4 linked regions of the Homo sapiens genome follow. The protein of the gene in region 3 interacts with the protein of the main gene of each other region in a pairwise test. Each region holds a gene or a part of one and is shown on either strand. Other genes may lie near its edges. The genes, in order: PHF5A, DCAF1, PRPS1 and FAHD1.

Region 1 (6,506 bases), on a different chromosome or scaffold from region 3:
CTTGCTCTGTCACCCAGGCTGGTGTGCAGTGGCGGGATCACTGTTCACTGCAGCCTCAATCTCCAAGGCTCAAGGGATCCTCCCATCTCAGCCTTCTGAGTAGCTGGGACTAAACTACAGGTGCATGCCACTATACCTGACTAGTTTTCATATTTTTCATAGAGATGGGTTTTTGCCATGTTGCCCAGGCCGGTCTTGAACTCCTGGGCTCAAGATCCGCCTGCCTGAGCCTCCCAAAGTGCTGGGATTACAGGCATGGGCTACTGTGCCCAGCCTCCACCATAACTGGAAGCTATCTCTTCAGTTCAAAATTAAAGTTGGACAGGAAGGAAAAAATAGTACGTTTCTAAAGATGACTTTGATCTATCTATAATGAAAGGTATGGGTGGTTTTGAATTCCTTCCAGTGGTAATAAGAGGACAAAGTACTTAACCAATCCCACTACCTCTGTTTTGAATCACAAATTCCTGGGTGACTAAAATAAATTCCTAGAGTTAAAGTTAAATGGGGAAGGTGACTACCAGAAAATAAACACCAACTTTATTAATATAATAGCAACAGAAAGAGTTTCCAATTTCTCAAAAGGAAAATAATATGAGACTAGTGGGCTATGATGATGCCTGTGAATAGCCAGCTACTGTACCCCACTGTAGCTGGACAAGTGTTAAACAAGTAAATGCCTTTCAAGAGGGCAGAGCCCTGCCCCCCCACCCCCCCCCCAAAAAAAACGGGAAATGCCTACATTTCTTGTTCTGATAGCTTCCCACCACACACCAAAGGTTCCTCAAGGACAGCTGCCACCAGAGCTGCTGCAAGAACATGTTTTTCACTGGGCGTCGCTTCACAGTCAGTTCCTCAAGCAGAAGACTAAAATATTATTTCTTTTTAGAAGATCTTGGTTGAGGGAGAACATACCAATATGGAGAACAGATCTTTGCTTCTCGAATTCAAGAAAAACCATTAACTAATCTATCAAGTTTTCTCCGATATGGTGTGCCAGAGTGCTCTGTGAAGAATCCTTTTCCATCCCTACCACGTGTCTGGGTGAAGGGAGAGGAGGGGGTGGCAAGCTGCCAGTACACTAGCAGGCACTCCTGGTGATGCTCTGGGCTCTGCTCCCTTTCTGCTGGTAGTAGTAGGCATGTTTTCTGGCAGCTGCAGCAGACTGATGTTGGGGGGAGGAAGGGGCCACCCACCAATCACCTCTTCTTGAAGCCGTATTTTTTGCGTTCATAGAAGAGGTCTGTCTTAGAGCTCCCCAGATTGACAATCTTTGGGCAGCCATCTCTCTGGAAAACAGAACAGAGAAGTTGTTAAGTCTTTGAGCCTGAACCAAGAGTGACTTAAGATAAAAAATTTAAGCCCAGTGTGGTAGCATGTGCCTTTAGTCCCAGCTACTACTCGAAGGCCGAGGCAGGAGGATTGCTGAAGCCCAGGAGTTCGAGACTAGTGGGCTATGATGATGCCTGTGAATAGCCAGCTACTGTACCCCACTGTAGGCAACATAGCGAGACCCCCATCTCTTGAAAAAAAAAAAATTGGTCACAGAGTTCAAATTCTCATCTTAGTATTTGAAGAACTCAATAAATGGGTTTGTAAATGTGTCCAAACACCAGTTATCTCCTTAATTGGGAGGCCCAGATCAGCACTGTTTCTTCCCTATCTCTTAGCACTTATGAAAGATCATTTATAGGCCGGGCACGGTGGCTCATGCCTGTAATCCCAGCACTTTGGGAGGCCGAGGCAGGTGGATCACCTGAGGTCAGAAGTTCGAGACCAGCCTGGCCAACATGGTAAAACCCCGTCTCTACTAAAAATACAAAAATTAGCCAGACGTGGTGGTGCGTGCCTGTAGTCCCAGCTACTCAGGAGGCTGAGGCAGGAGAATCGTTTGAACCCAGGAGGCGGAGGTAGCAGTGAGCTGAGATCACGCCACAGCACTCCAGCCTGGGTAACAAGAGAGAAACTCCATCTCAAAAAAAGAAAAAAAGACCATTTTATAACCTTTGGATTAATGGTTTAGCCATTTATCTTACCAATTATCCTATTTGATCTATCATCAATAATTTACTAAACACCTAAGAATGTGCTCAGGGCCTGCCTACCCTCTATCCAATGACTTGCAATTCATGTAGAATGCTGGATTCTCAGCCATGTCTGCTGCTATGACACAGTTGAGGTAGACTATGAAACTCTTTTTTTTTTTTTGAGAAGGAATCTCGCTCTGTCGCCAGGCTGGAGTGCAGTGGCGCGATCTCGGCTCACTGCAACCTCCGCCACCCGAGTAGCTGGGACTACAGGTACACGCCGCCATGCCCGGCTAATTTCTTTTGTATTTTAGTAGAGACAGGGTTTCACCATGCTGCTCAGGCTGGTCTCAAACTCCTGAGCTCAGGCAACCCGCCTGCCTCAGCCTCCCAAAGTGCTAGGATTACAGGCGTGAGTCACAGTGCTCGGCCATACCTTATATTTTATTTTTTTTTGAGACGGAGTCTTGCTCTGTTGCCAAGCTGGAGAGCAGTGACATGATCTCGGCTCACTGCAACCTCCGCCTTCCGGGTTCAAGCAATTCTCCTGCCTCAGCCTCCCGAGTAGTGGGGAGTACATGCACCCGCGACCATGCCCAGCTAATTTTTGTATTTTTAGTAAAGATGGGGTTTCACCATGTTGGCCAGGATGGTCTTGATCTCTTGACCTCCTGATCCACTCACCTCGGCCTCCTAAAGTGATGGGATTTCAGGCGTGAGCCACCGTGCCTGGCCCTTACATTTTAAATACCATAGGAGACTAATGGGTTTTATGTGTCTTCATTAATTCACTTAATTTGACACATGGTCTTGGGGGTACAGAGCACTACTGGCTAGAGATAGATGGCTGTTGACAGACCATGCACTAATTTGTCATGACAGGCTGCCCTGGCCATTTGATGAGCTTGAGTGCTTTCAGTGAAGCCCCTGGGAAGCTGTGTTATATAGAAATGATGACTCCATCAGTTGATTAGGGATGATGGGAGAAAAACCGGGGAAGCTGTAACTGGAAAACCCTTACAGGTCTGTTGATTTTATTAAACACCCATGTCAGAGTTTGAGTCCTGTGATATTAGGTGATAGTATGAATTAATCAAGTCCTTAGCCATCTCATTTCTAACTCAACTAATATCCTTCTTTGGGGGCAGACATCAACAACTACAAAAATCTCTGCAACTAACACTAACATTTTAGGATCTCCTAGAAAAGAAGTATCGAGTCATTACATTGAGCACTTCCATCTCTGAAGCCTGGTGTACCAAGGAAGCCGCCTACCAATAGCTTGCTAGGTGAACCCAAGTAAGCAACGTAATCTATATTTCATGTCCTCGTAAAAATGAGGCACTAGCTGCCTCTCCTGGACAAAGGCCTGATATTAGACATAATAACAGGACTCTCAACTCTTTAGAGAGGCTATGAAACTCATGATATGATGATAGCTTAAACTGTGCCTTACTGACTTGTGCAAATGTGGGCAAGTTGCTTCTCTTGGGACTTATATTACTCCTCAGCTGCAAAAGAAGAAGACTGGATCAGGTCAAGGTTTACAAACTATCCTTATAGATACCCAAATATTCCTGGAAGGTACCAAGTAATGGTATGACCCAATCCTCCAATCTGCACAGCTCTGTTCTTTACTTACGGGTTAGCTTTTTTTTTTTTTTTCTGAGGTGAAGTCTCATCTGTCGCTCAGGCTGGAGTGCAGTGGCGCTATCTGGGCTCACTGCAACCTCTGCCTCCTGGGTTCAAGCAATTCTCCTGCCTCAGACTCCTGAGTAGCTGGGATTACAGGCACCCACCACCGCACCCAGCTGGTTTTCGTATTTTTAGTAGAGATGGGGTTTCACCATGTTGGTCAGTCTGGTCTCGAACTCCTGACCTCATGATTCGCCTACCTGGGCCTCCCAAAGCGCTGGGATTACAGGCGTGAGCCACTGCCCCTGGCCTACTTACAGCTTAGCTTTAAGATGGTAGGCTCCTGCCCAGCCCCAAAATTTAATTAATTTACATTAACTTTTAACCTTTCTCCTTAGGGGTGCAATGATGAGAAAAAAAAAATAAAAGGTTAAGAAACACTGAGTCACGACGGGCGTGGTGGCTCACGCCTGTAATCCCAGCACTTTGGAAAGCCGAGGCAGGCAGATCACCTGAGGCCAGGAGCTTGAGACCAGGCTGACCAATATGGTGAAACCCCATTTCTACTGAAGATACAAAAATTAGGCTGGACACGGTGGTCCATGACTGTAATCCCAGCAACTTTGGGAGGCCAAGGTGGGTGGATCACAAGGTCAGGAGTTCAAGATCAGCCTAGCCAACATGGTGAAACTCTGTCTCTACTAAAAACAAAAAATTAGCCAGGCGTGGTGGTGCACGCCTGTAATCCCAGCTACTCAGGGGGCTGAGACGGAAGAATTGCTTGAACCCAGGAGGCATAGGTTGCAGTGAGCCAAGATCACACCACTGCACTCCATCCTGGGAGACACAGTAAGACTCTGTCTCAAAAAAAAAAAAAAAAAAAAAAAGCCAGGCATGGTGGCATGTGCCTGTAATCCCAGCTACTTGGGAAGCTTAGGCAGGAGAATCGCTTGAACCTGGGAGGCGGAGATTGTAATGAGCCGAGATCGTGCCATTGCACTCCAGTCTGAGTGACAAGAAAGAAACTGCGTCTCAAAAAAAAAAAGAGTCAGACCACCTAGGCCCTAGTCCTGGGTCTGTCACTTATTAGCCACGTGACCTTGGGCTAACCAAGTTGCTTAACATCTCTAAGCCTTAGCATCCTCATCTGTATCACACAGAACTTTTGGAAAACAATGTTCAGCTAAGTACCTTGCATATATTAAGAGCTTCATAAATGTTAGTGCTATTTTTCTTATTTTCTGGTTGGGCGAACTGAGGAAAATGGTAAACAAAAGGAATAAAGGAATCAAGATTAAGGGGATTACATGATGTGGCACCATAAGAACCTACAAATCAGTCCTCTGGTAGCAATGTCCATAGACATCATCCCTGTCTCCTGGTTATTCTTGTGGCTTTGAAAAATTATAAATGAGAATACCTAGCTTAGCTTACCTGTCTAATTCCCTTATCAATTATGAAAGTTGCAGGAAGACAATAATAACAAGGGGTACCTTGGTTGTAGGAAGGTTTCTGCATAGGAAAGAGCCTCGGCCACTTAATCTACATGATGATCTGTAAGGCTGAGAGCCTGGATCATGTCACTGGACTTCTTTGTGTTCCTTGGAAACTAGTGCTGAAAATGTGAGCTAGATTCCATCTCAAATGTCCTCAGAACATTCGTGTATAATGTGAAGTAGGGGAAGTGACATCTAGAATAAGTCTCAGGGACAGAATGAGGCATGAGGATCCAAAGGTATCAGTTCACACACCACATTCAGAGGAGTCAGACAGCAATTAACATTTATTAAGCATTCTCTGGTTGCAAGCTTACGCTACATAAGAACTCTAGCTAGACCCATGCAAAAATTCAAGAAAATGCTGTCTTAAATGGCTTAAACAGATATCCTGTATCTAGTTTAGGAACTGTTTGTTACTTTTCTTCACTGCTGTTACCTTATCATGCTTTCACTGCTTATAGACCAGAAGTAATTAACAAACACCTACTATGTGCTAGACACCCTACAGGGGATACCTCTGGATGACTTACAGGGACAGCACCAAAATACAAGTACCATGCTTGCACCGCATGTCAGGCACTGTATCATGACCTAAAGAAAAGGAGAGGCAAATAGACAAACCAAAGTCCTGCCTCTAATGAAGTGTAATCTAGCTAGTAGACTAGATTTGGATTTTCGGACAGCAGAATGTGACTTGATAGTTGAAGGTAAATGCAAATCAGAGTTGAGGACAAGAGAAAGGTCCAAATCATTATGTTTTTGGTACTTCAGGACCTTTCTCATCTCCCTAAACAACAGAAGATTCAATGGTGTACTCACTTTTTTTTTTTGAGAAGGAATTTCGCTCTTGTTGCCCAGATTGGAGTGCAATGGTGTGATCTCGGCTCAGCTGACTGCAACCTCTGCCTCCTGGGTTCAAGCGATTCTCCTGCCTCAGCCTCCCAAGTAGCTGGGATTACAGATGTGTGCCACCACGTATTTTTAGTAGAGACGGGGTTTCACCATGTTGGCCAGGCTGCTCTCAAACTCCTGACCTCAGGTGATCCACCTGCCTCAACCTCCCAAAGTGCTGGGATTGCAGGCATGAGCCACTGTGCCTGGCCCAATGGTGTGGTCTTATCTGGCCCAATCTCTCCCACTTACTGGGGGTAGGCAGGATCCAAGTGCGTGAAATGAGGTACTGGCGTTACTGCCTTCACCATGGGCACATCCCAGAAACACTTGTAAAAGGACAACATAAGGCCAGGCGTGATGGCTCACGCCTGTAATCCCAGCACTTCGGGAGGCCCAGATGGGTGGATCGCAAGGTCAGGAGTTTGAGTCCAACCTGGCCAGCATAGTGAAA
Region 2 (7,030 bases), on a different chromosome or scaffold from region 3:
ACCTCAATGACAGCAAGATAGCAGTCTTTGGTGTCTGTACACAGGTCAAAGATGTTCCGTTTCACATCAATGGTTGCTGGAAAATAGAATGTGAGAAGATTGGGATTGGACTATTGCTGTGACCCTAAAACCTGCTTTTCCTCTAAAGGAATTCAGGATGATTGCTCAAAAGTATTTCCATAACTTCTCTGTTTTTCAATAAAAAATTACAGGCCTCCAGAAAATGAAGGATCTTAAATAAGGAACACCAAAACACGACAAAATGTTCAATGTCTGTCCCTTTCTGCTTACCTATAGGTTTGTAGTCAGTTGCATTAAATGTTCGGAAGGATGACCCAAAGGGGCTTTTCATCCTCTCTTCCATTAAGTCATCTTCATCATCTGCCTGCAACATAGCTTGAGGGGGAGTGGGGGAGGAAACACTATTAGGAATCACAAACATCCCCTCTTCACAAGTGCAGAAAATGTTAATGGCCAATCAAAACAATCTACTTGCATATAGGTTTACATACAAATTCCCTTGTACAGAAATCTACTCTGCATCTAGTTAGCTCCTCTCAGAGCATCTTCCTTGCATATCCCACCTATTGTGACAAATAATATCCTCAGCCTCTCATCTACCTCCAAGAAGTGTTACTGTACTTACAAGGCTTATAACAACACAAGAGGACAAATGCAAAAGCTCTTAAGTTCATAATGATACACTGGAAAATACTGCATGAAATTTCTTTCCATACAAGATTTCCTTGTTATCTTCAAAGTAAGCTGCCTTTCACCCTAAACCAACATTATTTTCATATCTTTTGTCACCATTCATACTATCAATTTTTTATCTTTTATGTTACAACTCTCAAATGCTTTCCAATTCACAAGTGAGAGATGGTTCCAAAAAGAAGTATCAAATTAAGTGAAGGGGTAGAGCAAAAGGAAAGAGAATAATGAAGGATAAGGTTTATTACCTCCATACATCACTGTTCCCGTGTGATTGAACACCACGCGACACTGATCCAGAGCGGGAACAGTATGCAAAAGATGAAAAGTTCGAAGGTCCCACTAGGAGGGGAATGGTCAAGGAAAACTATTTTACACAAAACTTATCTAATCTCATGGGAGGAAATTCTAAAATATCACTTTTTTTCCTCCTGCCAGGTATTGATACTTTAAAAGTCAATGAGATCAAGGTAAAACAAATACATGTAGAATGCATATTATTGAATGATGTCTCTGAAAATATCCTAGGGTATCCTCATATACAGGAATGCTTTATGAGCTCTTTTCCTCCCAACAGTAGTACTTCATTTTCCTCTTATGTGGCAACTGATTTTTTACAGAGCAAAAGTAAAATCCTTCTGAAGACAGATAAAAGCTAATTCAATTCTTGGAGAACTGGGAGGTAGGAAACTGGTCACTCTTACCAAATACATAGAAAACATGCTAGTGAAAGTTGTCAGTAATTACTAACATTGGCAACAGTGCTTTGGAGATTTCACTAACATTTCAAACCAAAGGACAGGCACCATATTATTACCAGTGTGGACACTTTAACCAGGTATTGGTATAAAGATAGAACAAATTATTTCTGCACCACAAACCAGACAACAAATGGAAGGTAAGACATGAGTATAAAGGATACAATCTCAGTATTAATGATCACCTCCAGTCCATTTGGATGGAAAACACCACTGATGTTCATATTGAACTTGTCAAACTTGTGGATGGCCTGTGCAGAGCGGACATCCCAGAGGACGCCATCATTTAAGACAAGATCATCTGTAGGATTAAAGGTGGCACAGTTCCTCTTGTAGTTGTTGGCAAGATCTGGGTTAAACAGAGTCAACAGCTTGTTGCCAGTCTGAATATCATAAATCTTTAGAGAAGAAGGGATGGGAAGAGAAAAATCAGACCAATCCATCCACTGACAAATTAAAGAGAAAATGTGCAAAGCAGTTTCTAAAATTAACACACAAATTCTCCACATGGATCAATGATTACCACAGAATACTGCCTCCCAAAGTGCTGGGATTACAGGCGTGAGCCACCGCACCCGGCCAGGCACCTCTTTTTCTCGGGGTTCCATTCTGCCTTACTGGCCATTATATTTGATTTCCTTCCCAAGTTCCTCATTTGGCAACTCCTAAACACATGCCAGGGTTCTATACCCACAACTCTTCTCTAGTCCCCTTGATGATCTCATATAAGTTCATGGCTGTAAATACTATCAGCTGGGGACAGTGACTCATGCCTGCAATGCCAACATTTTGGGACACCAAGAAAAGTGGATCACTTGAGCCCAGGAGTTCGAGACCAGCCTGGGCAACGTTGGGGAAATGCCGTCTCTACAAAAATACAAAAAAATTAGCCAGGTGTGATGGTGCTCGCCTGTAGTCCCAGCTACTCAGGAGGCTGAGGTAAGAGGATTGCTTGAGTCCAGGCAGTCAAGGCTGTGGTGAGCTGTGATCGTGCCACTGCACTGCAGCCTGGGTGACAGAACAAGACCCTGTCTCAAAAATAAATAAATAAATAAATACTGTCAATATGTGGACAAGTCCCATATTTATATTTCCCAACCCACACCTCTCTCTTGAACTCCCAATTTTTTGTTGTTTTTATTTTCAGAGACAGGGTCTCACTTGGTTACTCAGGCTGGAGTACAGTGACATAATCATAGCTCACAGCAGCCTCCAACTCATGGGCTCAAGCAACCCTCCCGTCTCAGCTTCCTGAGTAGCTGGGACTATAGGTCCCAAGCCCACCAAGCTCAGCCAATTTTGTTTATTTTTTGTAGAGATGGGGGGAGTCTCTCTATGTTGCCCAGGCTGGTCTCGAACTCCTGGCCTCCCACCTCAGCCTCCCAAAGTGCTGGGATTACAGGCAGAAGCCACTAAGTCTGGCCAGCTCCCAACTTTTGTATTCAATCCCCATTCTCTACTTGAATGTCTAAGAGAATCTCAAATTTCATGTGTCCAAAATCCCAGGGCCAAGGTCCTCCATTTCTCATAGCCTCTACCATGCCTACCCAGGCCCAAACCCACAGCTCCTCTCATGTGTCAGGTGGTACAACACCCTCTGACCTGGAAGGCTGCTCTTGCTTCTCTCACAAAAACCAGAGTCACACTTCAGGAACTTTACATCCACTCATGTATCCTCTACTCACCCACCAGTGTCTTCATCTCACTCAAAAAAAAAGCTAAAGGCCCTAACTACCACCTACAAGATGCTACCAGATACAGGCCCCTCACTGACCTCAGCTCTCCTCCCACCTCCCAAGCAAGGGCTTTTCCCTTGCCATTTCCTGTGCCTTACGCTGTTCCTCCAGGTATCTTCCTGAATCTCGCGTTTCCTTCAAGGCTCTGCTTAAACATTACCCCATCAGTGATGCTGTCTACCCTAGATAAAAGAGAAGTCCCCCACACCACCACCAAGCATTTCCTACCTCTTACCCTGCTTTCATTTTCTCTGAAACACTTACCACCTAAATTTACCGTATATTTGCTTCTTTATTGTCTCCCCAATGAGGGTCCATAAAGGCAGGGGTTTCATTTCTAATCTAAAACTTACTAAGAATTCAAAAATATCTGTGGTGCTAATGACATCTTTCTCAATGTCACATTTAGCCCTTATACATTTTTCCCATACAGCTCAGAACTATATTATCATACTTTTAGATTCTAACTAGAAGGAATATCACTGATTTCTAGTTGCCCAAAGGACTTAGGTCCTCACATTCTATCAAGAAGATTTCAGTATGAACAAATGGGTATGATCAGCTTGAAAACAGTGGTTCTTAAGTACTTACGTGGGCAATGTCTCCTTTTGTGCCGATGACCCGATCCTGGGAGTGCTTACTGAACTCAACATAGTGATCTTCTGTGAAGGAATGCCTATGGACAAACAACAGGAGCACTGAAGTGACAGATCTTCAGGACATATTCCTGCAACCAACTGAAACACAGGTGACCCCCAGCCTCTTGCACAATCACACTCACCTAAAGATCCTGGACTCCCAAAGAGGAAACAATCATACACTTAGATTACAAAGAAAATTCCTTCTATCACCTTAACCAAGCAGATACAAAATAATGAATGGGAATTCCTTAGAGAAATGACAAACAGGGCACATGTGCCTTTGAAACACGCAGCAAAGGGGCCAGGCATGGTAGCTCACTCCTACAATCCCAGCACTTTGAGAGGCTGAGGCAGGTGGATTGTCTAAGCTCAGGAGTTCGAGACCACCCTGGGCAACATGTCGAAACCCTATCTCTATCAAAAATGCAAAAAATTAGCCAGGCGTGGTGGCATATGCCTGTGGTCCCAGCTACTCAGCAGGCTGAGATGAGAGGATCACTTGAGCCTGGGAGGTGGAGGTTGCAGTAGGTCATGTTTGTGCCACCGCACTCCAACCTAAGTGACAGAATGAGACCCCGTCTAAAGAAGGAAAGAAAAGAAAAGGCCAGGTGCGGTGGCTCAGGCCTGTAATCCCAGCACTTTGGGAGGCCAAGGCCAGCGGATCACAAGGTCAGGAGATCAACACCATCCTGGCTAACACAGTGAAACGCTGTCTCTACTAAAAATATAAAATATTAGCCAGGTGTGGTGGCGGGCGCCTCTAGTCCCAGCTGCTCGGGAGGCTAAGGCAGGAGAACGGTGTGAACCCGGGAGGCGGAGCTTGCAGTAGGCTGAGATCGCGCCACTGCACTCCAGCCTGGGCGACAGAACGAGACTCTGTCTCACAAAAAATAAAAAAAAGAAAAAAAAAAGGAAAGGAAAGGAAAGGAGAGGAGAAGAGAGGAGAGAGAAAAGGAGGGGAGGTGAGGGGGGAGGGGAGGGGAGAGGAGAGGAGAGGAGACACAGCAAAGACTGCAATGTCCTATGTGAACATGGGAAAATACATAGATTCTGGGTCGGGGTCTGCTGCATAATGAGAATGTATATACCTCATAAAAGTATCTAGGAATTAAGAAAGATAAAGTCTTATTAAACATGAGTCTTAGATGAGGAAGAGAGAAGTTAACAATAACCGACAGCATCCTCTTTCCCCAAAAGGCTTCCAGTCTAAGAACCAAATGAAGGGGGGTATAAACTAGGTAAATAAAGCACAGACTAGGTTCCAAAAGCAGATACATACTTCATATCAAATACTGACTTCATTCCCCAAAGTGCAGACAAAGGCTGGCTCCAAGTAGCAGATGTCAGCAGCAAGGACCCATCCTAAAAGAAAAAGGCGCAAGGTGGGTAACCACGTATTTACATACATGCAGATGTCACTACCTGCCATTAGCATTTTTAAAGATTTGCATAAAAATGTTGTTGAATTAAAGAGACAATTTTATAATCCCCAGAAACCAAGAAATGGTCAGAAGCCACTAGGATTTGAATACATACACCTATAGTGTCCTATAAAATAACCAAACTTAAGAGAATATTAAATCCTACTGAACTAGCCACAAAAATAGAATAGATAAAAGGGAGGGGGGAAAATGAGAAGATGTCAAAGATGGTTCCTTTCTTCCTACTAACTTTGCCATATTCCTCAGTCTCCATCTGAAATATGAATTAACCTCAACTAGACTTTCCAGTTGAGGACTCATTTAAAAGAGAGAGCTCAATAAAGGGTAAGCCTCCTTTACTCTAGTTCACCAATTCATCTTGGAAGAATGACTGAGAGCATCCTAGGAAGGAACCCTTACCCTGGAAGGTTCAAGATGTGTGATGGCTGAGTTGTGACAGTTATAGCTGGCCTCCTCCTGTCCACTAAACACATTATAGAGCTTCAGCTGCCCTGTGCAGGTGCCAAGCATCAGGAACCGCTCCCGTGCTGAGAATGCACAGCAGGTGAAGCCACTCTCATCTTCATTGGCTTCCCGGAACACTGAAATAGGACGGAATCTAAGCAAAAAAAAGAGAGAATCACAGGCAAAGAATGTGCAGGGACTCAGAAAAAGCAAACTGCTAGGATAGAAGAAAAAGCACAGAACATTAATGTTTCAAATGGCTTCTTCCAAAATCACAGTGACCTTCAGTGCTTTTTATTTTAAATAAGAAAAAGATTTCCACTTACAAATTTAAATAACAAAAATTCCCATGTTTAGGCCAGACACAGTGGCTCATGCCTATAATCCTAGCACTTTGGGAGGCCGAAGGGGGGGTATCAATTGAGGTCAGGAATTCAAGACCAGCCTGGCCAACATGGTAAAACCCCATCTCTACTAAAAATGCAAAAATTAGCTAGATATGGTGGTGCCTGCCTGTAATCCCAGCTACTCAGGAGGCTGAGGCAGGAGAATCACTCGAACCTAGGAGGCAGAGGTTGCAGTGAGCCAAGATAGCACCACTGTACTCCAGCCTGGGCGATAGAGAGACTCCGTCTCCAAAAAAAAAAAAAATTCCCATGTTTAAAACCTGTGATCCCGTAACCTTTATGTAAGATTTGTCAAGAATCAGAACAGGAAGCAACTTGCACCAGCACAAGTTTGGGAGCCTCCTTATGGACAGTAGTAATGAGGGGGTGTGGGTTCTAGAAAACATACTAGTTGAGATGAGAACACAAACGATTATATCAATATACTGCCAACAATCACACAAGGAACCCATGGTTGACAAAAGGTGGTACAATTACATTGTTCAAGTATTACACAAAGTAACAATCAGTGGTATTTCAGGACAACTATGCTGATACTGCCCAGTTTGATTTAAATAAAAGAATCATTCCAATTCCCAGGGAGTAAGAAGGGGCCTCTTCTTACCTGCTAAAGATAAGGTGCCTATCAAAGCATCCGCCATCCACCCCTCCATACTTTGGAAATGATGCCCTGCGGTTTAGCCTTGACGTAAAGTTTATTGGCGCTTGCCGCCTCTGTTTTGGCTCAGGACATTGGTGAGGAGTAAAGAGGGAGAAAGGTGGGCAGGTGGCAACTGGATTCTTGCAGCGAGCATGTTGTTCTCTAAGATACTCTGTGATTATACTGTCCAGCGTAGGTGGGGAAGGAAGATGTCTGTCCAGCTGTTTTTTTATGGCTGGGCTTTGGCTGTA
Region 3 (6,855 bases):
ATTTATGTTCATGGATTTTCATATAAAAGCATTAGATCAAAAACTGGAAATGTCCAATAAGAATTTGGTTATATAAAATTATGGCATAACCATAAGGTAAGACTATATAGCTATTTAAAATTACATGAACTAGCCCACCTCAGTGGTGCATGCCTGTATTCTCAACTACTTGAGAGGCAGAGGCAGGCAGATCACTTGAGCCCGCGAGTTTGAGGATGCAGTGTGCTATGATTGTGCCTGTGAGTAGCTATTGGACTCCAGCCTGGGCAACATAGTGAGACCTCATCTCTAAAAAATAAATTAAAATCTTTAATAATAAAAAAAGAAAATCATATATACTAAATATTAAAGGGAGAAACTGTTCAAAATATATTGCTAAGTGAAGAGAGCTATAAATGTATTAAACATTCTTGAAAAAGTGTATCTTACACAAATATCTGGGAGGTCAGAAATGATAATGTGACATTTATGTCAGGTGGCAGAATTAAGAGGCATATCTTCTCCCTTCCGTGTTCTAAATTTTCCACATTTTCTGCAATATTATCACCACCCCTTCTTGTCAACATTTACTGTTGTACTTATTATGTTTTGGACAAGATCCTAAGAACTTTACTTCTATCTCATTTAATCCTCATAACAACAGTATGGGTAGGTACTACTTTACAGATTAGATTATTGGGGCAAAGAAAGGTTAAGGATTCAGATCCAAGTTCTCTGATTTCAGCACTTTTAACACCCACCCCCTCCGTGTGTGTGTGTGTGTGTGTGTGTGTGTGTGTGTGTTTCCTAAATAACCAGACAGCCAAGGATGATCCTTATGTTAGAAGAAAAGCTACTCTGCTCAAGAGAGCATCAACCAAGAGTCACCTGGGGGAGCAGTTATAGGGAGCAGTTACCATTTCTTCAGTATAGGAAAAACAAAGATAGGGGGAACTCCATAAAAAAAAATGTGATTATGTTCAATGAAGATTTCAGAATATCTAGGAAACAAGAAGCTAATGATTAAGCCAGAAACAAGAAAATCTAACCAGTCAGCAATTATCCATGTTGGACTTAATAGAAATCAATCAGTAGAAAACTAAGTTGTCCTCCCCCTCTCCTCTCCCAATATAGCCTCAGGTTCTGGGGTGCTGCATTATGCAGAGGGCAGAAGGATTAACACAAGGAGAAAATAAAGCTTTCATGCCTTCACATTTTTCCTAGACGCATAGGAAAAGGATTAAATATCCACAGGGGCCAAAGAAAACCTCTAAATGAAAAACATTCTTGTCCCCTAACTATATTGCCAATCACAAAGTCTAGTCCTGTTTTGTATTCTTTATTAAGGCCCATGAGCCATAATGGTTTGGAAAAATCTAAAGACAGCAGTTTGTAAGCCTCTTTTAACTAAGGTATTGCCTGGTTACAGATGGCAATGTTTACACTATCATTTGCATCACAATCAGTAGCACAATAATTCGGGAAGAAGCTGTCCATTATCGGTGACATTACTTTATCAGCTGGGTCTAAAAGAGATAAGGCGAGTTAAACTTGGAAATCAGTCCAAAGAAAGCAAAAAAGTAAGCAAAAACATTTAGGAAAAAATATTCGAAATATTCTTATCTGATTATTAGGTGAAAACTTTCCCCTTAACAAATCTGTAAGATTGTGGGCAGGGCTCTGATTTAATCGATAGGGTAACAATAAAATACAAATTACACCTATCAGAAACTAAAGATCCCACACTTAGGTGGAAGGGGCACTGAAATAATCAGGTAACCAAGTCATCTCTAAAACAGTCCCATGGTGCCGGTAGAGGGTGTAAGTCGGAGTCGAGGAAGCAAGTTTTACTGGCAAGGCAATGGAAAAAACGCAAGTTGCAATGCACTGTCCAATCCTAGTCTTCCACTACATTGCCTGTCCTCAATTATCTTTAACATTCAGGTATAAAATTGTTTCCTAAATTCCCTACACAGAGCTTAAAGAAGGAGCCAAGTCCAGGATGGACTCGGTTACTGAAAAATACGCTTTTGCATTATCTGTACCACTAGCTGCACTGGGGAAGGTCAAACATTCCAGAATTGAGATTTCCAAGATTTTTTGGATGGCTCAAGCTGAGATGCTGGCTATCAAGGATGCAGAGTCAACGCATCACTTTAACAAATCAACTAGATTTATGGCTCCAATTACTCAGGTAGATGATTCATAAGATGAGAAAAGCCAACGCTTGCTGATCTAAGGGAAGTCGTAATAATTTTGGCGCCTGCAGTATATAATGTCAGTTTCCCTCAACACCAAGCCGAACGGACCAACACCATTTCGAATCAAAAAGCTGCTTATTGGACTCTAGGAAAAGAAAGACCAGGAGAGCTCAGTACGCAGGTAGGCTCTCTAAATGCAAGCTAGTCTAAGAGCTGAAGCAACCCAGTCCAGCCTGGGTGGCTCAACAGCAAAGCCAAGCCACGTGTCCCTACCGCCCTGGCTAAGCGTCGGTCCCCTCTCGTCGCTCTATGCAGCCACTATCTATTGGGTCCCCCAGCCCTTGCCCTCAAACGCAGAAGCTTCGCCTCACACTCCATCTTTTGACTCCACCCCACCGCACGGTAAGAATGAACGTGACCCTCCCGCGAGAGGTAAAATAACGGAAACAGCCCGTGGGGTAGGCTAGTCACAGAGCTGCACCCTCTCCCCCCAACCCCCAGTCTGTTTGAGCTCAAGCGGCGACCCCATCCCTCCTATACTCTGCCGCCTGGGCAGGTGAGGTCTAGTCAGGGTCCCAACTTGGTCCTTACCAGGTCTCCTGGTTGCTGAATTTCTTAGTCACCACCTTGCCTAGCTCCAGGCCCAGGCGGTCAGCAATTTTCTGAGATAAGTCCTGGTGGGAGCTGCCGCTGAAGATTTTGATATTCGGCATCCTGGCCAACTACCCTAAGCACTCCACTAAGCGATCACGGCTGCTGCAGAGACCGGAACCGAAGTCGGCCACAGACTCAATACCAAGCGCTTTGCGTTGCTACTCCGCCATCTTACATTCCCGCCCGGCGCGCGGCTCTAAATTACCCAAAGCGGCGGAGGTGGGGTCAGCGGCGAAGTCCACACCCCGCTGGCAACGATTAGCTAAGAGGGAGCGAAGGGCGGGGTTTGGTCCTCGGTGTAGCTCTGCCTCCTTCCGATTCTCTCAGGTATTGGGTGAAGAGCATGAACGGGGGCGAGACTAACCCATAGCCCGGCCCCCTGTAGCTAGGCTGTTGGGGACAGGAGACGTTGGACTGGGGGTGGAGGGATGCTGGTGACGTCTGAGGCCAGATCGTTCCCGCTAGCGGGAAATCAACCATGCCTGCTTTTTTATTTCCCCTCCCTCAGCGCAGGAAAGTAAGTCTGGCTCTGGTTTACAGTTTCCTTTAAGAAAATCTGTTTATCAGGATGACAGCCACGAGTTTGCATGTTTCTGAACACATTTTTTATCTCTTTATAAGGATGGGGCTGAATTAAAACACTTTTACATCACAGACGTGCATGCAAGGAGTTTGCTTGCCCATTGTAATTGCAGTGTCGCCTTTGCCTGCAAGACAGTTTACATGGGGGAAGTGACTGAAGGCATGCCACCTGAATCATCCAAGAGACACTGCAAGAGAAAGTTGTTTTGTTTCTAGTGCTGGAACCAAGTATGTTGAAACAAGTGAAGGAAGATGGATTTTCCAAACTATCTGGACAATAAAGATCTAACTTTTATAGCCCTCGGAAAGGAAAGAAAGTATAGTGTTCTATGGGACTTCAGATAAAGAGCCCTGAAGGGATTTGAAAAAACCTGGGTTTTAGTCCTGTCTGCCTCATGTAAGCCTCAATGTCATCAGCTACATGTTGCTAATGTGGCCTTTTACACCATGTTTTATTATTTTTATAGCGATACTTGTTAATTGGACCTAAGTGAGCCTTTATTCTTGCACCATGTTTCCATTAAGCATATTTTAAGCATGGGTTAGGAGAAGATAAAAATCATACAATTCTGGAATCAAAAGTGACCATAGTGCTCATAACTACCAAATGTAAAAATAGAAGGGACCTCAGAGATCATATAGTCGTTTTACATATGATAAAACTGAGATGGAGGTGGGAGAGGGATTTATCTAAGTGGCAAAGGCAGAAAATACTCAAAGCAGCATCCTGTCTTTGTCTTACTGCTATTTTCAGCAGTGTCCATGGAGGACTTCTCCTTCTGACCTTTTTTGCACTTTTACAAGCTCAGAAATTTAATGTAGGCCCATGTATATAGGAATACTTGGAGAAGGAAGTAAACTGCAAGGCAGAATATTAGTAGTCTTCCATCATAGGCCATTCATCAAATATTTACTGAGTGTTCTATTGCATGCAAGGCAGTGTGCAAGGCGTTGAGGGGACTACAAAGTATTTGCCCCAAGGGATTCGTTCATTCAATAAATATTTAGTGAACATTCTTTATGTGCTAGGCCCTGTGTATTGGCACAAGAATACATTAGTAAACAATTAAAAATACCCTGCTGTCATGGAGTTTACATTCTCAAACAATAAACATGTAAATAAGCAAAATGCATAGTATGTCAAATGGCAATAAGTGTTGTGGAAAAAAAAATCAGGCAAGGAAAGTGGGATAATGTGCCAGAGTGTAGAGGAGAGGAGTACAATTTTAAGTAGGGTGGTCAGAGAAGACCTGTCTTGGAAGGTAACATTTGGGCAAAGACCTGAAGGAGGAAAAAAAAAACAAAAAAATGAGCCATGTTGATATCTCGATAAGCAAAGAGAACAGAAAGGGCAAATACCCTAAGGCAGATGTATCTCGCTTGTTTGAGGAATACCAATGCGGGACGAGTGTTGTGTGGTGGAGGTGGAATGTATCTATAAGAGAAAAGGAGGAAAGTGAGGTCAATGAGATAAGAGTGATTGGAGGCCGGCCAGGCACGGTAGCTCACGCCTGTAATCCCAGCACTCAGGGTGGCCGAGGTGGGCGGATCACTTGAGCTCAGGAGTTCAAGACCAGCCTGGGCAACGTGGCGAAACCTCGTCTCTACAAAAAATACAAAAATTAGCCAGGCGTGGTGGTGGGCACCTGTAGTCCCACTGAGGCAAGAGAATCACTTGAACTTGGGAGGCAGAGGTTGCAGCAGTGAGCGGAGATCGCACCACTGCACTCCAGCCTGGGCGACAGAGTGAGATTCTGTCTAAACAAAACAAAACAAAACAGTGATTGGGGGACTCAGGTGGGCACGATGGCTCATGTCTGTAATCCCAGTACTTTGGGAGGCCGAGGCGGGCGGATCACTCGAGCTCAGGATTTGCAGACCAGCCTGGGCAACATGGCAAAACCTTATCTCTACAAAAAATACAAAAATTAGCTGGGCATGGTGGCAAGCACCTGTAGTCCCAGCTTCTGGGGAGGCTGAAATGAGAGGATCACTTGAGCCTGGGAGGCAGAGATTGCAGTAAGCCGAGATCGCGCCACTGCCCTCCAGCCTGGGTGACAGAGAGAGACCCTGTCTCCAAAAAAAAAAAAAAAAAGGGATTGTGGGGAGAGTGCTGATCATGCAGAACCTTATAGGTTATTTTAGGGGTTTTTGCTTTAACTGAGTAAGAATTTTTAGCAAAGAGTGACATAATCTAACTTCCCTTTTAAAAAGATCACCCCAGCTACTGAGAACAGAGTGTAGGAGGCAAGATAGGAAGCAGGAAGACCGATTAGGAGTTAACTTCCAAAGAAAGTTGATAAGACATTTATACAAATAATTACAAAGCACAGACAATGTAATACGCTACCATAGAGAAGCCTGTGCTTGGATAATGTGGAGGCTGCTGTAACAAGGAGACTCTAAAATATAGCGGCTTTAGTAAGACAAATTATTTCTCTCTTGCATAACAGGCTGGCTGGTCTAAGCCAGTGGGATGATTCTGCTCCATGCTAGGTCATGGACACATCCACATTCTAGCTCAGAGAAGAGGTCTAGGCAAGGGATTTCCTTTTAAGCAAGTGAGATGAAATTTATCCATCCCACTTTCTCTCACATCCCTTTGGCAAGAGCTCAGTCACAATTCGCACCTAACTGCAAGAAAGACTAGGAAATGTTTTGTTAGGTGGCCCTGTTCCCAGAAAGAAGAGAGAATGAATTTTGGGTATGCAACTAGAAGTCTCCCATAAGGCCCAAACAAAATGCTCTGCAGGTCCAGAGGTAGAAGATATCACCTCTGCATGGAGTATCCTGGGAAATATTTTTGGAGGTAGAAGCACATGAACTAGGCCTTGATTGATGAGTAGGGTTTTGACAGGCAATGATTGAGAGGAGGTGGATCTCCCAGGCAGGAAGAAAAGATGAGGAAGCAGAGAGAGGTTTTGAAGAAGAGAAAATAGTTTAGTTTTGCTGGAATATCAAGTACCATATTGGGACTTCATTCCGCAGGCAATAGGAAGCCATTGACTGTTCTGGAGTAAGAGCATGACACGATCATAACTGTGCTTTAGGTAAACTTTTCTGTGTGGGGTGAAGAATAGAGAAGAGATTGGAGGCAGGCAAACCAGATTGGGAGAGCAAGTTAGTAATGTCATTAACTATGCCAGTAGCTGTAGGGTTTAAGAAGAGGAATGATAAAGACATTGTGAATCTGAGATTCACTAATCTCAGATTAAATTAAAATTAAATTAATTAAATTAAAATCTCAGATTAAATTAAAAGGGGTCCTTTTAGAGATTATGGACCCCTTTGAGAATTTTATGACCACTATAGATCCTCTCTCCAGCCACAAGTATTCCTCATTTTATCACACTTTGCTTTATTGTGCTTTGCAGATACTGCATTTTTTACAACTTGAAGGTTTATGGCAACCCTCTATTGAGCAAGTCTATTGATGCTA
Region 4 (6,253 bases), on a different chromosome or scaffold from region 3:
CTTTAGCCAGCCTTCGCAGCCTCTAGATCTGTCTTCATCTGAGTAATGGGGATGGTAGTGATCATACTAAGCTTATGGCTTGGTTGCTGGTTACATAACACGTGGAAATACAGAATAAACTGCTTGGCATGGTGCCTAACAGTACTGTGTTCAATACATGGGGACCGTTACTACTCAATCAGATGTCCTAGGCTTTCTTCAGGGGCCAGCAGATGATGTGAACGCGAACAGGAACCCCTGCCGAAGCCCAAAGGACTCCTCCAGGCATTGACAGCTATGCTGTGCATCTTGCCTGGATGTTTTTTCAGAGGAGGGTGCAGGCAAGAGCAAAAGCAGCAGTCCCAGGCTATTCAACTTCCACAAAGCCTCCTTATCTCCGGTTGGGAAGTACAGTTGCTGATTAACTGTGTTAACACAGCACAGTGCTCAGAAGGCCAAAGGTCAAAGACTAAGGTCTGAAGCCCCACAAGGAGGAAATATCCCTCCTCGTCATTACTGGGGGGAAAAAAATTACCCTTGTAAGCCACTTAGAAGGGAGCACCTTTATTTGGAAAACAGTAATTTCAAAATCATCTCCCGAACTCAGAATCGATGGGTCTGGGTAGATACCCTAAGTAAACAGGTGAAATCTTCATTACTTGTTCACTTATTAAGTAAAATTTTAAATTAACCGATTATGTACAGGAGTGTTTTTCACATTTCCTGATAAGAATCACTTGGAATGCCCTGTAAACACAGCTTCACTGGAGATTAATCCTATCAAATTGATTCAGCAAGTCCGAGATGGGCCAGTAATTTGTGGAGATTTTTATTTTTACAAATGCTTCCTGATGATGACCAAATCTAAGAAAATTTGGTAAACAACGGAAAGTTATCTGGAACATAACTTTCAGTTTTCTCTGCAGTTTTTAAGTGCTGAACTACTGATCATCCTAGAGATAACCCACTGAAAAGTCTTCTCTAATCCAGTTTTACAAAAGGAAAGTCTTTTTAACATTTGGTTTGATAAAATGTTTTCCGAAGAAATACTTTACTTGCCTGTTTTCATTTCTGGCCCACCCGTTCTACTTCACGTTTTCTTGAAGGGTTCATCTTCTATGAGTTGAGGCATAGCAATCTAATCATTTTTAAAATAAATGGTTTCTTTTTTTTTTTTTTTTTTTGAGACGGAGTCTCGCTGTTGCCCAGGAGTACAGTGGCGCAATCTCAGCTCACTGTAAGCTCCGCCTCCCGGGTTCAATTGATTCTCCTGCCTCAGCCTCCAGAGTAGCTGGGACTACAGGCGCCCGCCACCACGCCCGGCTAATTTTTTGTATTTTTAGTAGAGACGGGGTTTCACCCTGTTAGCCAAGATGGTCTGGATCTCCTGACGTCGTGAGCCGCCCGCCTCGGCCTCCCAAAGTGCTGCGATTACAGGCGTGAGCCACCGCGTCCGGCCAATAAATGGTTTCTAATTAAAGGATTGTGACATTTAATAGCCGTTGCTTGCTCTTGTCTTGCTCCCTTCTCTCTCGAAACTTGTTAAGAAATAACTCAATATTCTGGCTTTTCCACTTTAAATGTCATACTGACCAGCCCGTGTATGCCAGCCTCGATCTCATCGTTTTCTTTAACCGGTCCAACTCCCTTTGGCGTCCCAGTCAAGATAATATCTCCTTCTTCCAAGGTTATGATCTTAGAAACATAGCTGATGATGTAGGGGATGGAAAAAATCATGGAGGATGTCTCACCCTCCTGTCTGAGTTCGCCGTTGACCTTGAGCCAGAGCTTCAGCTTGTGAGGGTCAGGGATCTTCTCCTTGGGCACGAACGCGCTGACCGGGCAGGACGCCGTGAAGCTCTTCGCCAGAGTCCAGGGCAGCCCCTTCTTCTTGCACTCGTCCTGCACGTCCCGGGCGGTCATATCCAGGCACAGGGCATAGCCGCCCACGTAGTCCATGGCCGCAGCCTCGGGGACTGCGCGGCAGCGCTTGCCCATCACCACGCCCAGCTCCAGCTCGTGGTGCAGGTTGCGAGTGTACGCGGGCATGAGGATGGGCGAGCCCTCGGGCGCGTAGGCCGTGGACGGCTTCAGGAACAGCACGGGCTCGCTCAACACCGCGCTGCGCATCTCCCTGACGTGGTCCGCGTAGTTCCTCCCCACGCAGACGATGTTCTTTCCCCACTCCCAGAAGCGGGACAATGGCCTGGATGCTGCCATGATTCCCATCAAGTGCCCCTGTAGTCACGTGGGCTGGGCCGGTCAGCTGATGCCTACGGCATCCCGGAGAGGACCAACTGCCTCGGAACGCTGTCCCCCGCAGCGACGGCCCGTTCCACCTCGCGATCTGCCGGGTACCCGGGCGGCGTGGCGCTCGGCCTCCAGGGATCCACTGTGCGGTGCCAAAAAAGAGGCGGAGGCTCGCGGCACAGCTCTCCCGGCGCAGCTCTCGGGCCGCCGCCGCCGCTCCCAGGCCCGTCTCCCGGCCCGTGGCAGTCGGGGCTCGCGGACAAAACAAGTTGAGCGCGAGCGCGTTGATTGGTTGGCGGACGGTGCGAGGTGGACGCTGATTGGCTGAGGGCAGCGCGAGGCGGGCGCTGATTGGCTGCGACGCGCCGACGCCGGTGTTTTGCAGTCCTGGGCAGCTCGGCAGTCCAGCCCGGCCCGGGTCATGGTGGTGGGCCGAGGGCTGCTCGGCCGCCGCAGCCTCGCCGCGCTGGGAGCCGCCTGCGCCCGCCGAGGCCTCGGTGGGTGCGGCGGGGCGGTGCGGGCCGGGGGACGCGGGCCTGGCGGGGCGGGCAGCGGGCGGCGCCGGGCCGTCGTTTGGCGACCGCTGACGCGGTGTCTGTTGCGCAGGTGCCTAAGGCCGCGCTGCCGGGCTCGAGCGGAGGCGGCGCAGGCGCTGAGGCTGGCGCGGAGCGGGCGCGGGGCCGCGGGTGCGGAAAGCGCTAGGTAAGCAGGGCCAGGCCTGCGTCCGCCGCGGCCTCCACGCTCGGGCTGGGCCGGCCGCGCCCCTGACGCCTCCAGGGCATCGCGTCCTGCCCGGGCCGGCGCCGAGGAGAGCCTGGGGCGCGGCTCTGAGGCGCAGCGGGCAGGGCCCCGGGACGCCTGGCCCACCCCGCACCTGCTGCCCCGCTGCAAGGACCGCGGTCTCGCGGCGCCGCCTGCGGTGGTGGAGCTGCCCGCCCGGCGCCGGAGCCCCCGTCTGGGGACCCGGCGTGTCATTCGCCCGAGGTGGTCGCGCGGCCGGGCCAGGCCAGCGCCCCGGGCGGGTGCGCAGCGCAGGGCACTGGGCGGGCGGAGGCGCAGACAGGGAGGCGTCCCTGGCGGTTTCCAGATCTCGCCGAAAGCTGTCAAGGCTCTGCAGGGGGTAGAATGTCGCCATTGCTAAGGAAAGGACATGGATTTTGAGGTCCTCAGAATTACAGTTTTAGGGACATTCATAAGGGTCCAGGCAGAGAGTTCCAGCGGGACTGTGTGCATCGGCAGGGCGTGCGTACCCCATTCTAAGGGAGGCCCCAGCCCCCGTATTTGGTGCCGCCCAGTTCAAGGGAAGCAAGATGCTGTGAAACTTCCTGATTTAAAAAAGAAGTGCAGTGACGCACGCCTGTCATCCCAGCACTTTGGGAGGCCGAGGCGGGAGGATCGCTTGAGTCCAGGAGTTCCAGACCAGCCTGGCAACATGTTGAGACCTCATCGCTACAAAAACTAAACAAAATCAGCCGGGCGTGGTGGCACACAACTGTAGTCTCAGTCACTTTGGAGGCTGAGGTGGGAGGATCGCTTGAGTCCAGGAGGTCGAGGCTGCAGTGACCCTTGATCGCACCACTGCACTGTAGCCTAGGGGACAGAGTGAGACCATATCTCAATTTTTTTTTGTTTTTGGGGCCAAACCGAACATGTTTCTGGACTTGGTCCAGGCCCCAGGCTGCAGGTCCTTGACCTGTTTGTACAAAGTATTACAGTTACAAAACAGCAAGCCGGGAACATTTGCCAGGCAGTGCTGGGCTGAGTGATATGGAAAGGGAATACGGTTTCTGCTGGTGTTGGCACCAGCTGCGTCTTTCCTCAGAAATAAAGGCACCTCCCTGGGTTGTCAGCTTCTTCAGGAGGCTGTGATGGTCTCCAGGGGAGGCTGAGCACCAGTTGTAAATGACATTTTCTTCGCCTGGGCAGTGCAGTGGCCAATCTCGGCTCACTGCAACCTCTGCCTCCCGGGCTCAAGCGAGTCTCCTGCCTCAGCCTCCTGAGTAGCTGGGACTACAGGCGCTCGCCACCACGCCCAGCTAATTTTTGTATTTTTTAGTAGAGACAGGGTTTCACCATATTGGTCAGGCTGGTCTCGAACTCCTGACCCCGCGATCCGCCCGCCTCGGCCTCCCAAAGTGCTGGGATGACAGGCGTGAGCCACCGCACGTGGGCAGTATTTTTGTTTGTAATGTTCTGCTCCTTGTTTGTAATGGAGCTCCTTTCCAGGAGGACGCCCGGCACTCGGAATCCTGTCACAACCCTTCTGCACCCCACCTGCAGCCCCCAGCACCCACACTCTGCTTGTTGTGCTCCTTGGGCTGGGGTGGTGCTGAGGCTAAGGGGAAGGGGAATAACACAGGAAGCTGCTCATATAGAAATCTTGGTATTATTGTTCCTGAGGAGAATGATCTGGAAAATGCCCAGCTGGTTGTCAGGCGGGTAATAGGATATCTTTGTGCAGTGATTGAAACTATAGTTTGGGCAGTTTCCCCGGCTGTGGAAATAAGGTCGGATTCCGCATTTCGGTGGGCCCTGGAGACGCGTGTGTCTGTCAGTTGGTGGCTGCTGCCCATTTCTGGATCCCTTTTGGGAGAAGCCCCTGCCGTGGCACCTACCCCAGGACTGCACTGTCCTCTGCCACCTTCTGTGGTTTCTTCCCCGTGTAGAGCGGAACTGAAGGTATTGTCGGGGCCCCCAGGTATTTTTAGATTTAGTAGGAGTTTCATTGCTGAAAATATTTTTGCATTGGTCGACTGGGTGGCAGACACTTTTGTCCCTTGGTCACCCACTCCTCCCAGCTCTTGGGCCTTCTGGGCCCCTGTGGCAGAGTCCTTTGGGTCAGTTGGATGGTGGTTTTGTGTCCTCCACACTTGAATCTGGGGGCAGTTGTGGCCAACTTTCCGTCTCAAAGGAACTGCTGATTTTTGTGCATATCTCAGATTCGTGCTGTTCAAGAGCAAGTATTGTTTGTTTGTTTTTTTTTTTTTTTGAGACTGTCTCACTCTGTTGCCCAGGCTGGAGTGCAGTAGGGCGATCTTGGCTCACTGAAACTTTCACCTCCCGGATTCAAGCAATTCTCCTGCCTCAGCCTGCCGTCAAGTATTGGTTCTTTCTGGCTAGAGGCTGAGAAGGGCTGTAACTGCATGGAACGCAGGCTCGCTTAGTCAGTGGTGGCAGCACAGCTTGCTGGAGGGCAGATGGCCAGGCGGGGGCACCCCTAGTCTGTGTTCCCTTCTTCACATTCTGTCCCTGAGTCCGGGGTGTGAATAATCCAGCACTGGCAGTGGTTCGCCTCACAATCACAAGCTGGCCTTCCTGTCCTTTTAGAGTTCTCAAAAAAGAAAATAGAGATCGTAAGTCTGAAACAATTGATTTCCATGAATGTGAGCATGAGTTAGTTCCTGTGTTCTCCTCAGGGATATATGAAGATATTCCTTTTTTTTTTTTTTTTTTTTTTTTTTTTTAAGGAACAGGTTATTGTCTTGTCACCCAGGCTGGAGTGCAGTGGCACAGTCATAGCTCACTGCAGCCTCAAACTCCTGGGCTCAAGTGATCCTCCTGCCTCAGCCTCCGGAGTAGCTGGGACCACAGGCATGCACCACCATGCCTGGCTAATTTTTAAATTTGCAAAGACAAGGTCTTGGCTGGTCGCGGTGGCTCACACCTGTCATCCCAGCACTTTGGGAGGCCGAGGTGGGCGGATCACAAGGTCAGGAGATCGAGACCATCCTGGCTAACACCATGAAACCCGTCTCTACTAAAAAATACAAAAAATTAGCCGGGTATGGTGGCGGGCGTCTGTAGTCCCAGCTACTCAGGAGGCTGAGACAGGAGAACGGCGTGAACCTGGGAGGCGGAGCTTGCAGTGAGCCGAGATCGCGCCACTGCACTCCAGCCTGGGCGACAGAGCGAGACTCCGTCTCAAAAAAAAAAGAAAAAAAAAAAGACAAGGTCTTGCTATGTTGCCCAGGCTGGTCTCAAACTCCTGCCCTCAAGCAGTCCTCCCATCTCAGTCTCTTAAAGC

Evidence for each region.
Region 1: the proteins of PRPS1 (region 3) and PHF5A interact in binary tests that used the Homo sapiens proteins (3 or more experiments, as listed by UniProt).
Region 2: the proteins of PRPS1 (region 3) and DCAF1 interact in binary tests that used the Homo sapiens proteins (3 or more experiments, as listed by UniProt).
Region 4: the proteins of PRPS1 (region 3) and FAHD1 interact in binary tests that used the Homo sapiens proteins (3 or more experiments, as listed by UniProt).

The regions. Positions count from the first base shown.
Region 1 is NC_000022.11:41,459,199-41,465,704, forward strand, and holds the end of PHF5A (PHD finger-like domain-containing protein 5A), read right to left. Parts: intron 1,290-6,506; coding exon 1,200-1,289; 3' UTR 519-1,199; downstream 1-518.
Region 2 is NC_000003.12:51,412,991-51,420,020, forward strand, and holds part of DCAF1 (DDB1- and CUL4-associated factor 1), read right to left. Parts: coding exon 6,744-7,030; intron 5,887-6,743; coding exon 5,688-5,886; intron 5,209-5,687; coding exon 5,126-5,208; intron 3,882-5,125; coding exon 3,797-3,881; intron 1,868-3,796; coding exon 1,634-1,867; intron 1,054-1,633; coding exon 960-1,053; intron 397-959; coding exon 292-396; intron 77-291; coding exon 3-76; intron 1-2. UniProt on the Homo sapiens protein: Acts both as a substrate recognition component of E3 ubiquitin-protein ligase complexes and as an atypical serine/threonine-protein kinase, playing key roles in various processes such as cell cycle, telomerase regulation and histone modification.
Region 3 is NC_000023.11:107,624,667-107,631,521, reverse strand, and holds the start of PRPS1 (ribose-phosphate pyrophosphokinase 1), read right to left. Parts: upstream 3,013-6,855; 5' UTR 2,894-3,012; coding exon 2,772-2,893; intron 1-2,771. UniProt on the Homo sapiens protein: Catalyzes the synthesis of phosphoribosylpyrophosphate (PRPP) that is essential for nucleotide synthesis.
Region 4 is NC_000016.10:1,823,185-1,829,437, reverse strand, and holds FAHD1 (oxaloacetate tautomerase FAHD1, mitochondrial), read right to left. Parts: upstream 2,233-6,253; 5' UTR 2,209-2,232; coding exon of another isoform or gene 2,200-2,208; coding exon 1,534-2,199; 3' UTR 528-1,533; downstream 1-527. Other genes in the region: HAGH (hydroxyacylglutathione hydrolase, mitochondrial isoform 1 precursor), read left to right, coding at 2,651-2,726. UniProt on the Homo sapiens protein: Tautomerase that converts enol-oxaloacetate, a strong inhibitor of succinate dehydrogenase, to the physiological keto form of oxaloacetate. It is thereby required to maximize aerobic respiration efficiency by preventing succinate dehydrogenase inhibition.